2 separate regions of the Homo sapiens genome follow, and region 2 is linked to region 1. The links come from fine-mapping of genetic effects on gene expression. A gene starts in region 1. The other region holds a variant in brackets. All regions are shown on one strand. Distances are between the middles of the regions.

Evidence for each region. PIP is the estimated chance that this variant, and not a neighbour inherited with it, causes the effect.
Region 2: its variant is fine-mapped to the expression of QKILA in esophagus mucosa (GTEx, PIP 0.99).

The regions. Positions count from the first base shown.
Region 1 is chr4:139,621,805-139,624,719 of GRCh38, reverse strand. It overlaps QKILA (QKI interacting lncRNA), which reads left to right and starts at 1,466. Exons shown (of 2, transcript NR_187398.1): 1 at 1,466-1,619.
Region 2 is chr4:139,655,258-139,658,172 of GRCh38, reverse strand. No RefSeq gene overlaps it. Among named protein-coding and RNA genes, the nearest start is that of MGST2, 9.1 kb to the left of the region's middle. The variant T/G (reference allele first, on the strand shown) is at 1,444.

The DNA of each region.
Region 1 (2,915 bases):
AGATGTATGTAAATCTCTTCAAAAGCCTCCTGCCAGTTTTACAATCCAGGAATGTCTTTCTCAAGGACCTGGGAGCCCTCCCTTTGAAATGTAATCATCAAAGGAGATGGCACCCCTGTCTCCCAGTCTTTGTGGAGAGTTTTTGTGGGAGTCTAACTTCAGCAGGACACCTTCCTCCAAGTCATAAAACCATCCCTTGTCAAAAGATAGAAGTTTATTAGCAAACACAAATGGCCTACGACCTCTTCACAACATCCTCTGGCATGTTTCACTAGCCTTTAAAAGCCTTTAAAAACTTTGCACCCTCTGCATCAGCAGCATTGAGTTCACACTGAGTTCTAGTCCCTCTCTCCTGTTGCAATAACTTCGGATAAACTTCCTTGCGTGTTTAACTTTTCCAGGCAAGTAATTTTTTTTCTAATACTAATTAGAAAATTTTGCTTTGATGTCCCCCTCCTTACACCTCCAAAATCTGTCTCATTTCTTTGTAGCATTGGTCCTCAAATTTCAAAAAGCATGTTTTTACATAACCTGGAGGGCTAGTTAAAACACATTTCTGAGGATGGACGTGGTGGCTCACACCTGTAATCCCAGCACTTTGGGAGGCCGAGGCAGGCGGATCACTTGAGGTCAGGAGTTTGAAACCAGTCTGGCCAACATGGTACGACCCCATCTCAATTAAAAATATGAAAATTAGCCGGCATGGTGGCACGCACCTGTAATCCCAGCTACTCTGGAGGCTAAGGCAGAAGAATCACTTGAATCCAGGAGGCAGAGGTTGCAGTGAGCCAAGATCGCACCACTGCAATGTGGTTACCAGCCTGGGCCACAGAGCAAGACTCTGTCTCAAAAAACAAACAAACAAACACGTTTCTGAAGCAGGAGGCCTGGGATGGGGCTTCAGAATGACACTTTCAACAAGTTTCCAGATGAATTGGGGCTGGTCTAGAAACCACACCTTTAGAATGACGTTAGCATGTTTTTTGCACAGACAATCTTAACTCCCTGAATTCCCTTTAGTTAATGGAGACTCTAGTACACCATCCTGCAGTGGGGCCATTTCCATAGCTGGTGAAGAAATTTTCTTTCCCACAGTCTTCCTCCTCTCTTTTTCATACTTTTCCCTCTTTTGCTTTCTGGCCATATGCCTTCTTTTGCTTTCCTCCCCTTCCACCTCTAACTCACAGCAATTCTCTTCCCTCTACCAACCAGCCTGTTCCAAAAAAAAAAAAAAAAAAAAAAAAGGTCCCCTTTTATTCCTTAGGGTAGCACTTGTTTTTGTTTTTTAACATCCAAATCCTTCTTGGAGCCCCTTCGTATTCTCTCTCTGAGGAAGACGGAGGGGGCTTCCCTCATCCTCCCTTGTTACCTAGCAACTTGTCTTCTTCCTGACAAGTCACCACCCTGCCAGGATGCCAGCTGATGCACACACAATAAAGGGAAAGTGAGCAGACACCACCACTCCAGTCCACTCATAGAGGACCCTCTGCGCATTAGCACTCCGATGAGTGGCTTGCTATGGGCAGGTCCCCCAGACGCCTCTCCCCCAGTAAGCTGGCCACACTGCTCCTCCAGGGATCTCAGAGAGATGGCAGCTTGTCAAGTTCCTGAGTCGCTGGGTATGTACTGGGAATTTCAGATTTAATCCCTAATTACATCCAGCTCATCACCTTTGTAATAGGAGCCATAATCATCTTTTCATTGTTGTCTTTGAGTCACTGGGGCTGTGTGGAACACTATATCCATATTCATGCATGTGTTTTCTATTTTGCTACTACATCCTCTTCCTTAGACTTCAAAATGAAGGGGGATTTTCTTTTCTCCTGCAAAAGCCTTTATGAAAGAAGGTGTTTGCTTAACACTTTCAAGCTTCCCCATTGACATCCTTTGTTCTTTCTCTACACATTCATGGATTAACTACTTTGGGTCCAGCCGTGGTAACCAACTTCAATTTGTCACAGAAAATGTAGATGTTTTTAGGTAGGGCTTATATAGTGGAAAAGATATGGACACAAACTCCCTTCCTGGACCAACTGAGGAAGGAAGATTTCTCAACCTCACTTTCTGTAATCCTAAAAGAAACAGTAGAATAGGAAAGGAGGAAAGGAGAGAAAGATAGAAAGAGAAAAAAATTAACTCCACTCTAAAAAGGCATTCATAGCAATAATACTTATAACAGAGAACAATGGAAAACTACCCAGATGCTTGGTCAGGCGCGGGGGCTCATGCCTGTAAACCCAGCACTTTGGGAGGCTGAGGTGGGTGGATCACGAGGTCAGGAGTTCAAGACCAGCCTGGCCAAGATGGTGAAACCCTGTCTCTACTAAAAATACAAAAATTAGCCAGGTGTGGCAGTGCACACCTGTAATCCCAGCTACTCAGGAGGCTGAGGCAGGACAATTACTTGAACCCAGGAGGTGGAGGTTGCAGTGAGCTGAGATTGCACCATTGCACTCCAGCCTGGGCAACATAGCAAGACTGTGTCCCCACCACCAAAAAAAGAAAGAAAATTACCCAGTTGCCCAATAGGTAAATGGACAATCATTATAGCAATGCAACAGAAGATAATTAGATCAATTTCATAAATGACAGCCTATGTAAATGGACCATACAAATCACAGAGGTATTTTAATATATATTTAAATATACACAAGCATGCAATGTATAAATATAACTGACATATATTTTAATATAATAATTTATGGGAAAAGAATCCAATAGAGATTAAACACACTGGTTAGATTCATGCAAAAATACATTAGACTGTTCAGAAAAATTAAGAACAATATGTGAAAAGGTATGAGTAGTATAGAGCTGTGCTGTCCAATATGGTAGCCACTAGCCACATGTGGTTAACTGAGTACTTGAAATGTGGCTAGTCTGAATTGAGATTTAAGTGTAAAACTTGATTTCAA
Region 2 (2,915 bases), 33 kb before region 1:
ATTGGGCTACTTAAAGAAAAAAAGGGGTACCGTGGCTTCACTTGGTGTCTCTCTGGGGCTTAAGGCAAAAGAAAAAGGGCAAGCTACCCCTCTTTTGATGAGAAAACACAAAAGGTTGGTGGATTAAGAACAAACAGTTAAAAGCAGCTCTTATTCACTTTGAAATGTGGTGCTAAACCTGCATCTGGGCTGACACACCAAACAACAGTCATTTCAACACAGCACAATCCTGTTAGAACATGACTCACAAAAACACCGATGTGTCTAGATCGGAGGCCAAGTCACGTCCTGCACAAAAAGAAAGGAAACACAGCAAAACAAGAAACCTACTGGCCCCAAACAGGAAAGCCCTCCTGTGCATGCGGGCCTGTGACTGCATCCTTCAGCTACCTTAGCAAGATGATAAAGAACTTTGAAAACTGCTTGCCTGCTTCTCTTTTCTTTCTTTCTTTCTTTCTTTCTTTCTTTCTTTCTTTCTTTCTTTCTTTCTTTCTTTCTTTCTTCTTCCTCTTCCACTTCTTCCTTTCCTTTCTCCGCCTCTCCCTCCCCTCCTTCTCCTCCCCTTCCTCCCCCTCCCTTCTCCTCCTCCTCTTCCTCCTTCTTCTTTCTTTCTTCTTGTTCTTCCCTCGTTCTTCTTTCTTTTCTTCTTCCCTCCTGCTTGCCCTTAGGGTGTGCCTGGTTCTCACCTTTGCTTCTGGGACTTGGGCAGGATGATATCCTCAGAATTTCAGTTTCTGGCCATTCCCAGACAAACCTGTCTGGGACAGGAATTCCAGACAAAACAGCTTATCCGCCCTTCCACGCCCTCTCCTGCATGAGCCTATTTTTCATTCTCTTCTCAGAGGTCCCACTGGCTGGTCATCTAATTTCATCCCTAATTTGTAGTAGAAGGATTCTAACAGCCACACATTTAGAGCTAGGAGCTGCAGTTTAAGGTGCTCTATCAAAATAACATATTTTGTGAAACCGCTAGGGGGAGTCAATCCAGGGCTGCCAGACCTGCCGGGATAACACCACCAGAGGCAGCTCAGCTTCCAGGCAAGCCACCCTCTGAGGTCCCTGTGATAGCTTACTCCTCCAGGTTTCCAGAAGTCCCTACAGATGCACATCAGTGAAAATGGAACAAGTCAGTTAACACAAACTGTCAAAATCATCTCTAAATAATGTCCTATAAAAATTCAGTTTTTCAGGTATGAACACATTGACCATTTCCAGCAAGCGACCTGTAACAGTCAATTGCTCAAAACCCACAGGTGCTCAAATGTAAAAATACCAGGATTTAACCGTTAGTCCTGATCCACTCAGAGCTAGACGGAAGCCAAACACAGACGCTGCCCCAGAGACGTACATTCCATGGAGAAGGGTCAGAAAAGGACACTTTACGTTTGGCATCCCTGTGGCAAACTGCGAGGGGATAGAGGAGGGGTGAGAAAAGACACAAGG[T/G]TTCCACCTGGTGGTGGGGAAATCCCTAGCCAAGGGGATGCCCGTTTTTTGATCAATATTCCGAGGAATTGGATACCACACCTTGGACTTTGATTTGATCCCTTGATGTACCCCTAGCTTTTAAAGTGGCTTGGTTAAAAAAAAAAACAAAAACTTTGCAAAAATTATTTGGAAAGGAGTGGGTCAGAGAGCTGGGCAGTGTCTGAAGAGTTTCTCAAGATCAGGCAGACAGTTTGGTTGGTAAAACATCCGAGAACTGGGTTTTTATTCATACTGGAATGAGGGTACTGCTTTGCAATGAAAGAGAAAAATCTAAAGCAAGGAAAGGGGGCCAGGTGCAGTGGCTCACGCCTGTAATCCCAGCAACTCAGGAAGCTGAGGCAGGAGGATCGCTTGAGTCCAGGAGTTCTAGGCTGCAGTGAGCTATGACTGCACCACTGCACTCCAGCCTGAGCTGCCATCTCAAAAAAAAAAGAAAAGAAAAAAGAAAGAAAGAAAGGAACAAACCAGAAAATAGCAATGCACATAAGGCCGGGCGTGGTGGCTTATGCCTGTAATCTCAGGATTTTGGGAGGGCGAGGCGGGCGGATCACTTGAGGTCAGGAGTTCAAGACCAGCCTGGCCAACATGGTGAAACCCCATTTCCACTAAAAATACAAAAAAATAGCCAGGTGTGATGGCATGCTCCTGTAGTCCCAGCTACTCGGGAGGCTGAGGCAGGAGAATCACTTGAATCTGGGAGGCAGAGGTTGCAGTAAGCCGAGATCGCCCCACTGCACTCCAGCCTGGGAGACGGTGCAAGAATCCTTCTCAAAAAAAAAAGAAAAAAAAAAAGAATGTGCATAAGTTCATTTATTCATTCATTCATCAAATGCATTGAGTACCTACCACATGCCAAGCTCCATACTAAGTGCTGAGACCCAGGAATAAGCAAGACAGACAACAGCCCTGCTCTTACAGTATTTACAGCAGAGTGAGGAGGATGTACATTAACAAGCCATAACCAAAGCGAATTAATTCATGATCAATGTGGGGAGTGCTGTGAGAGGTCCCAACTGCCATACGAATGTATGTCAGGGGGCCTAACCTAGTCTGGGAGGCAAGAAGAGCCTTCGCAAAAGTGACATTTTGGCTGAGGACTGATCCTAAAGTGTTAGCTAGATGAATGGTGCACAGGTGTGTGTGTGTCAGAGGGTGGACTGGAAGGAGAAAGGGGAATATTCCAGGCTGAGAAAGAACAGGAAAAGGCTTGTAGAGGGAAAGGCTATGGCATGGTCAAAGAATCCTGAATGAAGTCCGGTGTGGCTGTTGCTTAGAGACCTGGAAGAGAGTAGTGTCTGCTGTGCCAGGGTTGGCCCACATAGGGTCATGTTAAGTATGCTTACTTCATACCGGCTGTTCTCAACCTGGGATGATTTTGTCCTCAGGGGACATTGGGTGATGCCTGTAGACATTTTACTTATTACAGCTGG